Homo sapiens: one gene and its partner. The protein of the gene in region 2 interacts with the protein of the main gene of each other region in a pairwise test. Each region holds a gene or a part of one and is shown on either strand. Other genes may lie near its edges.

Evidence for each region. Proteins that work in one complex are often made in the same cells at the same time.
Region 1: the proteins of TTC14 (region 2) and NKAP interact in a two-hybrid assay, tested with the Homo sapiens proteins (one large-scale study listed by BioGRID and IntAct).

What each region holds. Positions count from the first base shown.
Region 1 is NC_000023.11:119,926,219-119,931,115, forward strand, and holds part of NKAP (NF-kappa-B-activating protein), read right to left. Parts: intron 3,948-4,897; coding exon 3,798-3,947; intron 1-3,797. UniProt on the Homo sapiens protein: Acts as a transcriptional repressor. Plays a role as a transcriptional corepressor of the Notch-mediated signaling required for T-cell development. Also involved in the TNF and IL-1 induced NF-kappa-B activation.
Region 2 is NC_000003.12:180,600,154-180,605,741, reverse strand, and holds the start of TTC14 (tetratricopeptide repeat protein 14), read right to left. Parts: upstream 3,580-5,588; 5' UTR 3,481-3,579; coding exon 3,320-3,480; intron 2,852-3,319; coding exon 2,727-2,851; intron 2,619-2,726; coding exon 2,419-2,618; intron 1,518-2,418; coding exon 1,433-1,517; intron 1,265-1,432; coding exon 1,135-1,264; intron 891-1,134; coding exon 735-890; intron 1-734.

The sequences.
Region 1 (4,897 bases), on a different chromosome or scaffold from region 2:
GTGCTGGGATTACAGGCGTGAGCCACCGCGCCTGGCCTATCCTTTTTTCTTTTCTCCTTTTTGTGAGTCTTAAAGTCTGGCTCTGTCACCAAGGCTGGAGTGCAGTGGCACAATCTTGGCTCACTGCGACCTCTGCCTCCTGGGCTCAAGTGATTCCCCTGCCTCAGCCTCCCGAGTAGCCGGGAGTACAGGTGTGTGCCACCACGCCCGACTAATTTTTGTATTTTTAGTAGAGATGGGGTTTCGCCATGTTGGCCATGCTGGTTTCGAACTCCTGACCTCAGGTGATCCACCTGCCTTGGCCTCCCAAAGTGCTGGGATTACAGGTGTGAGCCACCATGCCTGGCCGCTATCATTAATTTCAAATACTAAGGGTATACGTCTAATTTGTTTCCAGTAAAACAATCAGAAATGGGCAAATTATTAAACTTCCTAGGTGACATATCCATTTGCCTTTGTGGAATTGGAAGTAGGATAGATAAAACATTTAACTAGTCATTAATCAGATGGAACTTCCTTCAAGGTTCTACTTTACCATAAAACCAAAAGAACCAAGTCTAGGCTGGGCATGGTGGCTCACGCCTGTAATCTCAGCACTTTTGGAGGCTGAGGCAGGCAGGTCACCTGAGGTCAGGAGTTTAAGACCAGCCTGGCCAACGTGGTGAAACCTCGTCTCTGCTAAAAATACAAAAATTAGCTGGGTGTGGTGGTGGGCACCCGTAATCCCAGCTACTTGGGAGGCTGAGGCAGGAGAATCATTTGAACCCAGGAGGTGGAGGTTGCAGTGAGCTGAGATTGCGCCACTGTACTCCAGCCTGGGAGACAAGAGTGAAACTAGGTCTCAAAAAAAAAAAAAAAAAAAAAAGAACCAAGTCTAAATCTGTAATTGAACAGCAGTTTTTATCAGTGGATTTAACTTCCAAGTCTCCCTCTGTCACCCAGGCTGGAGTGCAGTGGCATAATCTCGGCTTATTGCAACCTCCGCCTCCCAGGTTCAACCGATTCTCCTGCCTCAGCCTCCTATTTCATGTACTGAATAGTTCTTTCTTTCCCCATTGATCTGACATGCTATCTCTTTCATACACTGAAGTTCCATACGTGTATGGTTATCTTTGGGCTCTGAATTTTATTTTATTTTTTTTTGAGATAGTGTTTTGCTCTTGTTGCCCAGACTAGAGTACAATGGCGAGGTCTCAGCTCACTACAACCTCCACCTCATGGGTTCAAGCGATTCTCCTGCCTCAGCCTCCCAAGTAGCTGGGACTACAGGCACTAGCCACCACGCCCAGCTAATTTTTGTATTTTTGGTAGAGATGGGGTTTCACCATGTTGGCCAGGCTGGTCTTGAACTCCTGACCTCAGGTGATCCACCCGCCTCAGCCTCCCAAAGTGCTGGGATTACAGGCATGAGCCACCACGCCCGGCCTGAATTTTATTCCACTGAACAATTCAGTTGTTCTCCTATGCTTTCTAAAGTGCTGTAAGCTTCATAATAAGTCCTCCTATTTGTAGGGGAAATCTTACCTTCCTGCTCTTCTTTTTCAGGAGTGACTTGGCTATTCTTGTCCTTTTAGTCTAGTATATAAATTTTAGAACTGGCTTATTAAGTTTCATGAAAAACTGTGTTCTGATTTTGATTGGGACTGTATTGAATATAAAGATCAATTTGGGAAGAAATGACAACTTTACAATATTGCCTTCCTATCCGTGAACCTGGTATCTCTCCAGCTATTTAAGTTTTCTTTAATCTTACCTTCTTGCTCTTCTTCTTCAGAAGTGACCTGGCTATTCTTGTCCTTTTAGTGTAATATATAAATTTTAGAACCAGCTTAATAAGTCTCATAAACAACTGTGTTGTGATTTTGATTGGAACTATATTGAAGATATGGACTCTTAATGTCTTACATTTTTCCCCATAGAACCTTGGGCATCTTTTGTTAAGATTTATTCTTAAGTCTCTCATATTCTGACACTGTTATAAACGTTCAAGGTTCTAGGTTTCTGTTGTTAGTAAATAGAAATGCAGTTCATTTTTATTGGAACTGTATTGAATACACAATCTCTTAATAATGTTTTATAGTTTTCCTCACAGAGCCCTGGGCATCTTTTGTTAAGATTTATTCTGAAGTCCTTCATATTCTCTGATACTATTACAAATGTTTTCTTCTTATTTAGTTACATTTTCTAGTTGTCTGTTGCTGGTAAATAGAAATGCAATGGATTTTTGTGTACTAACCTTATATCCAACCAGTTGTTAAACCCTCCTCTCATTTATAATTTATCTGGAGATTCTTTGGGATTTTCTATGTAAACAATCAAATCATTCACCATGTCATTCACAAAAAAATGACATTTTTTTTTTAAGACGGAGTTTCACTCTTGTCACCCAGGCTGGAGTGCAATGGCACGATCTTGGCTCACTGTAACCTCCTCCTGGATTCAGGTGATTCTCCTGCCTCAGCCTCCTGAGGAGCTGGGACTACAGGTGTCCGCCACCATGCCCAGCTAATTTTTGTATTTTTGGTAAAGACAGGGTTTCACCATGTTGGCCAGGCTGGTCTTGAACTCCTGACCTCAGGTGATCCACCCAACTATGCCTCCCAAAGTGCTGGGATTACAGGCGTGAGCCACCACGCCTGGCTAAAAAATGACATTGTTATATCGCCCTTTCCAATCCTTATTATTATTATTACTGTTTTTTCAGGCTGAGTTTTGCTCTCCAGGCTGGCATGCAGTGGTGTGATCTTGGCTCATTGCAACCTCCGCCTCCTGGGTTCATGCGATTCTCCTGCTTCAGCCTCCTGAGTAGCTGGGATTACAGGTGTGTACCACCACGTCTGGCTAATTTTTGTGTTTTTAGTAGAGAAGGGTTTCGCCATGTTGCCCAGGCTAGTCTTGAACTCCTGGACTCAAGTGATCTGCCTGCCTTGGCCTCCCAAAGTGCTGGGATTACAGGCATGAGCCACCGTGCCCAGCCTTCCTTTCCAATCCTTGTGTCTCTAATTTCTTTTTCTTGCCTTACTGTGTGGGTCCTCCAATGCAATGCTTCAAATATTGGTCCTCAGTATTACAAGATTCTGGAGGTGCTTCAGGGTTTCTGCAAATATTTGCCTTCAGTGTCATTTAAAAATAGTTATCTACTTAAAAAAAAAGTTTATCAAGTTTTAAAGAATCCAAAATTCAATTTGATCTAAGTACTGCTGCCCTATTTGCTCATTCTCCTGGTTCTTCCTGGAACTTTTCTCTTTCCTAATTTTATATTCATTTCCCATGCTGAATCCAGTGTCTTTTTAAAATTTATTTATTTATTCATTTATTTATTAGCCAGGATATATTCTCAGCTGACCAATGTCTTTTATCATCTTTTTCTGTTATTCAGTCTCAGAAATCTGGGTCCATAAAAAACTGAAGACAAACTTGTAACCAGGAAACACTGTCTTGTGAAAATATTTTCCTAACTGCCACATTCCTCATGGGGCAGTGATAAATAGCTGAATTTAACTATATCCTCCAGTGGATAAAATATCTGTAAGCAAATACCAACTAGGAAAGGACATTAGGAAGATTGATTCTTTGAAGTCAGAGATATAGCTGAGTTTGAGGCTGAGTTGCATATATACTTGGAATTGCAGAAAACCATGTTATACTAACAACACTAATATCAAACCAATATTTATACTCTACTTTTCATAAGAAACAGTCACTTAATGAAAATCAATTACCAAAATATAATTCTGGTAGTAAAAAAGAAGAAAAAGATCTAATCATGGAAACTGAGCTTAATGCCAACAACATACCTGCTACCACTCATTACATAACCTGAGCATTCAAATGATGCAATTTCTTCACTTGTCAAGCCAATTTCACCTCTTCGTGGGATACGTTTTCCAGCTTTTACATATTCAGCCATAGCTGCACCTTCACCAGGTAACAGAGCATGGCCATAGCTACAAAGTAATTCAGAATTCAGAAAAGGTCCATTAAATCATCTTAATATTAAAAGCTTATAATCTAAAGAGAGCACCAAAAATCCCCACATTTTCTCTCAAACAAGAGTAGGAATAACAGTGCTCAGCAGTAGTGTGCTAGGAAGCTCAATGTGAATTGCTTTATCCTAATTAGTGTATTAAACATTGCATTGCACTATGACCTATACAACTAACCCAGAAATGCAGAAATATTTTGAAAGAAAAGAACTGCTGTGAGTATAGATTCACAGTTTACAATTATGGATTAATTTATCCCTACAGGTATTGTCATTACTGGTTCTGGCTCCAGCTGATTCCCTTTCCCTTTTTCCCTTAAAAAATCCAAAGTATGCCAGGCACAGTGGCTCACGCCTACAATCTGAACACTTTGGGAGGCTGAGGCGGGAGGATCACCTGAGATCAGGAGCTTGAGAGCAGCCTGGCCAACATAGCGAAACCCCGTCTCTACTAAAAATACAAAATTAGCCGGGCATGGTGGTGCATGCTTGTAGTCCCAGCTACTCAGGAGGCTGAGGCAGGAGAATCACTTGAACCTGGGAGGCAGAGGTTGCAGTGAGCCGAGATCGTGTCACTGCACTCCAGCCTGGGCGACAGAGTAAGGCTTTGTCTCAAAAAACAAAACAAAACAAAACAAAAAAAAAAAACAAAGTAGGCTGGGTGCAGTGGCTGACGCCTGTAATCTCAGCATTTTTGGAGGTTGAGGCGGGCAGATCACTTGAGATCAGGAGTTCGAGACCATACTGGCCAACATGGCGAAACCCCAGCTCTACTAAAAATACAAAAATTAGTCCGGGCGTGGCGGCAGGCGCCTGTAATCCTGGCTACTTGGGAGGCTGAGGCAGGAGAATCACTTGAATCTGGGAGGTGGAGGTTGCAGTGAGCCAAGATCATGCCACTGCACTCCAGCC
Region 2 (5,588 bases):
AAGTTAAACCACAAATATTTTTTAAGTAACTATACTTAACTCTGCTTGACAGGCACTCGACAGTGAAAGTATGAATCCCAAGCAAGAAATCTGCATTCTATTTACATACCAAAATCTTTGAACTTTCGAAATGATTATTATTGTTAAACAGTATTTTTCTTGGCCAGGTGCGGTGGCTCACGCCTGTAATCCCAACACTTTGGGAGGTCGAGGCGGGTGGATCACGAGGTCAGGAGATTGAGACCATCCTGGCTAACACGGTGAAACCCCAACTCTACTAAAAATCAAAGAAAAAAAAATTAGCCAGGCGTGGTGGCGGGCACCTGTAGTCCCAGCTACTTGGGAGGCTGAGGCAGGAGAATGGCGTGAACCCAGGGGCAGAGCTTGCAGTGAGCTGAGATAGCGCCACTGCACTCCAGCCTGGGTGACACAGTGAGACTCCGACTCAAAAAACAAAAACAAAAAACAAAAAAACCCAGTATTTTTCTTTAGCATACACACAAAATTCTTATAAAAAGTTTCTGCATCCTTCTCTACTTGGTTACATGGTACACATATTAATCACTGATAAGACAGTCCAGTCCAGAAGATGGGATCACCTGGTTCATTCAACCTTTGGCATATGCCTGCTACTAGGTGGCTTAGGATGGTAAAATACGTCCTTCAGCTAAACGCAGCTTCTGAGCTTACTGCCACTCCCCTCACCATCTAAGAGTAATACTGATGTACTATACCTTTGTAGGCCTCTCATTAAAGATGGTGGATTAGATTCATCTATTCCTAGTTTTTCTAGAAGGAATTCAACTACTCCTGGATTAACAAATCCCAAGGAACTCTGCATGACATTTTCATAGGACTCCAAAGAATTGCTATTTAGCTCAACACTTCTCCTTAAAAAAATACAAACACAAAAATTGTAAAATGACTAATTTGACATTCCATTTCTAGTAAAGAAATAATATCATTTGAGGTTTAAATACTAATTCCATTTTTTGCATAAGATGGTGTGGCAATATTATGATATGGTTTCCTTTTACCAAGTCTGAAGTAATTTAACCGTTATAAAAATGTGGTATTCCTCAATCCAAGAGACTTTTGTAATGAACTGTTGTTGAAATAATACGGATAAATTACCTGTAGTATAAAGGAAGCTCTTCAGAGCTAATTACACCTAATTTAATACCAGATAGGTGTGGTGGAAGAGAAGAGCTATACAGAGATACTGCTAGCTTTTCATGGTATCTGTCAATATCCTTGATTCCAGCTTAAGAAAAAAAAAAAGAGAACTAAGCTGATTAGTAAGAAAATGTAAACTAACATAAAAAATATAAACTTTCCCAAACACTACCCTCTTAGACTGTATTTTTTTAAATTAATAAAAACAAAAATTCAACAATCATTACTTTTTTATTAGTATGATGAAACTAATCACCTCGAATGATGTCACCAGTTTGGTAATATGATAAAGGATCCCCATGGTTACTGTGAGAAGGCACATCTCTTAAGGGACAAAGAGCCTGTAATGAGAAGTATTTTAAAACACCAGACATTTCAAGCTTTGATAAGAACAGTGTCTTCTTTTATCTTAGTTGTTTGGTATGAAACAGCTAGTAGTTGAACAACCTAAAGTAAAAATTTAAATAAGGATTTAGTTAAAAGTAATTTCCGTGTCCAAACACAGTAAAATATGTTTGCTGGTTCAGTTAAAAAACTAAAATCTCATGAAACTTTCCATTAGTTTAGGAACCAAATATGATGGCTTATGACAGTATACAACATGCATCAAAAACAAACTAAAATTTGTCTAAAAGGTATAAGGATTCCAGTGAAAATGAAATGCCAATTCTCCAAAGTATTTTGTCTGTTATCCAATCTGTAATACCTTCTGCTTTTCTTCCTTTTTATCTGCCTGGATAGATGGCAAATACCCAATCTTTTATCGTGACACATTAGTTTAAATTCAGGACTATCCATCTTGGGCAAAGTATCTTAATATAATGTACAAACCACTTACATTTAATTATTGTAAATATATAAATGAAACTTCTCTCCAAATTATCCACATGAAAATATACAATGCCAAATATTAACTAATTAAGAATACATATGTTCAACTACAAGAAATAAGTCTGAATATCAATCAACCTCACCACGTCCACTGATACCTCTTTGAGCATTTAGAAAAGAACACTGTGCCTGCCAACCAGTTTAAATTTAAAAAATCCCAAAAACCAGAAATGGAGGGAGAAACTGGGTAACTTACACTAATTTTTTTAAACTATTTTTCTCCAATTAACATTTAATTTCCAAAAGCATCTTGGCAGGTATACTTGAGCACAACTGCATGCAAAGATATAGTTCTTGCATTGAGATGCGTTAACAAAAACAGAAGCAATCCAAGTAACAAAAATAACTTACTGTGATTTCTAAGTGGGCTATATCTCTCATGATACCACTTCCTAAACAGATCAACACCATGAAAAAACCGAATTCCCGAATAGAACTAATTCTTCCAATCACTATATCACCACGCTCAATATCTCGGAAAAACAGCTCTCTCCGATCCATACTAGGTATCTCCATGAATTGCTCTAAAGGTGGCATGATTGCATAATGATCTAAAAAAAAAAAATTAACAAAATCACTAACGATAGTTTTGAGTTCCGTTTCACCTGAAGTACTGTTAAACCGAACCGCAATCTTAAAGATTTTAAGGCTAAACTGACCTTCACTGTCTTCATTAATTTCAGAAGTTGCAGGTGCATCTGATTTCCAGGAAAGTGCAAAAAGCAGATCCGCTTTTTTGGAGATGAATTTCTGTATCTCGATGTTGTCAACTCTCTTCTCTTTTCTTAAAAAGAAAAAAATATATATGAAAATTGGGTTATCTGCAAAGCCTCTTTACTTCTAACCTTCTGCTTATGGCTTTCATCGCCCATTCCGCTCCATCCTAAGCTGCAGACAATACAACCTCAGACAAAAAGTTTTAACTAGGCATTCCCTCATTAACCAACCTGGAGGTGGAGAGCGGGGAAACTTAAAAAGTGACGCCTCCAACTCAGATAGGAAAGCTCAAGGGATTTTTAGCTAAGGAATCTGCGCCTCTACCAAGCAGTGCCAGAGAAAAAGTTCAGCCCGCATCCCGCATTGCACAACCCAGGAGCGCCCCCCGTCCACCCAGCCCAAGACACCAGCGCGCGATCGTCCTGTGCTCACGGCCGCGGCTCCACTTCCTCTAGACGCAAACCCGGGGCTGCGGTAGTGGCTGCCAGAGCTGCGTCCCCTCTTCCGTGGCGCAGTGGCACCAACGTCTCATTACCTGCCCTGCAACGGGTGCTGGGGCGGCGGGCCCCGGGCTGGCTCGGCGGCCGACCCCAGGAGGCTACGGAAGTGTGGATTGTCCTGCTGTTCGCTCCGAAGTAGAGAGAGCAAAGACGACCCGTGGCAATTTAGCGACTGCCGCAAAAGGTCCCGGTCCATGGCTAGAGAATGCAGGGCCCGGAGGCCGACGGGCTGATAGTTCCCTGTTCCGTGTCCGCTACTTGAGCCGGGTGGTACAGGAAGCGGAAGAAACTGTCTGGAGGCTGCCGGAAGTACACAGACAGCACAACCAGTTACACCCGGAAGTGTTCTGGGGTCGCCCCCACGGCGGCGCGGCGGAGCTCAGCCTCGATCTCGCGAAACCGAGCGAGACTACGGAAGGCCGAAGGATTGGGCTCAGCATTGCTTGGGCTAAAGGCTGACTAGGGCTTCCAGGAAGTGATGTATGTGAGAAGTTTGCTTTTTAAAGTGTACGTGGGATCGTTATTACGTCGAAATAGCTCGAGCTGTAACCTAGGGTAAATAATAATTCCTTTTCGTATTCATCAAGGTGCTTCTAAGTGCCAGTGCCAGGGTAAGAACCCTATACGAGTCTCCAAGCTTCTTCCCTCGACGTACTCTCTGCGTAAATCAATACCTGTGTCTCTGGCGTAACCCCATTCAACCGGCTGCTCCGGGAAGGTTTCCAGGTGGTTTTAAGGGCAGAAGAAAGGAAGGACACGGACATTTGTTAAGCACCTGGAGTGGTGTTCTCCATCCATACCCCATTTACTGTTAGTGATTGTGAATTCTAAAACCAGGATGGCTTTAATGTCTCCACACGTGCATATGCCATTCAAGTTTTACAATAACTAATGAACACATGCATTTCTTATTTAGTTTATCTCAATGGTTGCTCAAAATTTAGTGTCTGTGGGACTTACTGTATAGTGGTATGTACGCAAAAGTCAATATACTGTTCTTATGGACAATTCAAGTGATTTTCAAAGGGAATTTCAACTTAGGTCCCCCATCCCCTTACTTACTGACTTGAGAACCTAACCACTATGGTAGCTATTGTACTTTTTCATTTTAGAAAACGAGGAAACATGCTCAGAGAGTCCCAGTAAATTGCTCAATGGCACACAGCTAGTAAGAGGCTAGAGTTAGGATTCCAAACGAAGTATTAATTGGTCTTCTCAGGCAGAGTTGCTGGATTGAGTATTTTATCATATGGAAGGTCTAACTAACCCTAATTTTGAGATCATGTAGCTTCGTTTTATTCCAGTATAAAATTTGTACCATTTAAATATGTTCAGTGTAAATAGTTCAGTATAGTCCTCTTGAACAGAAATAAACGGTGACAGTTAGTCTCTCCACTTCCCACCATGTGTCTTTGAGGAAATCAACTTGCCTTTCACTGTGTTACCACTTTTGTATAGGAGATCTAGCCCAGAACATAATCGATACTGCCACACTGTTTTGTGGAAAACCCAGGCAAATAGGTAAACAGTTTGAGACTTGAGAAAATGCAACAAACAAGAATGCAACTGTAAAAGATAAATTTGGGTTAGGCACGGTGGCTCACACCTGTAATCCCAGTACTTTGGGAGGCCGAGGGTGGATCACTTGAGGTCAGGAGTTCAGAGACCAGCTTGGCCACCATGGCCTAACCCCGTCTCTACTAAAAATACAAAAATTAGCCGAGCGTGGTGGCTCATGCCTGTAGTCCCAGCTACTCGGGAGGCTGAGGCACGAGAATCTCTTGAACTCCGGAGGCGGGGGTTGTAATGAACTGAGATCGCGCCACGGCAGTCCAGCTTGGGCGCCGGAGGGAGACTCCGTCTCAATAAATAAATAAATAAATAAATTTCAAGCTTCTATAGGCATATCAACTTTAATAAATGGTACAGACTGACTTGTTTTAAGCCATAACTCTAGAGAATGGTTGTTTTTAGGAAAGAGTGCTGTCACTGAAAAGGAAAGCTGACCACTAAAAATTATTATAGACATCTTGATAAGTATGTGATTTGTGTTAGAGTCAATCTGTGATCAAGGACCTCATTTTTTGGAGGGACTAAGAAACCGGTGTCTGAGAACCAGACACCAAATAGTGTTACTTAGCCTGGGAATGTCACCTTCTGAGGCCATTCTTCAGTAGCACATGGTTTTATCACTATGGGATCTGTCTATACTTCTTCCTAATTCCAACACTAGGATAACCCTCCCCCACCTCATACCTTGAACATCTGAAATGGCCGTGAACATAGAAAGCAGCTCCTTTTAGG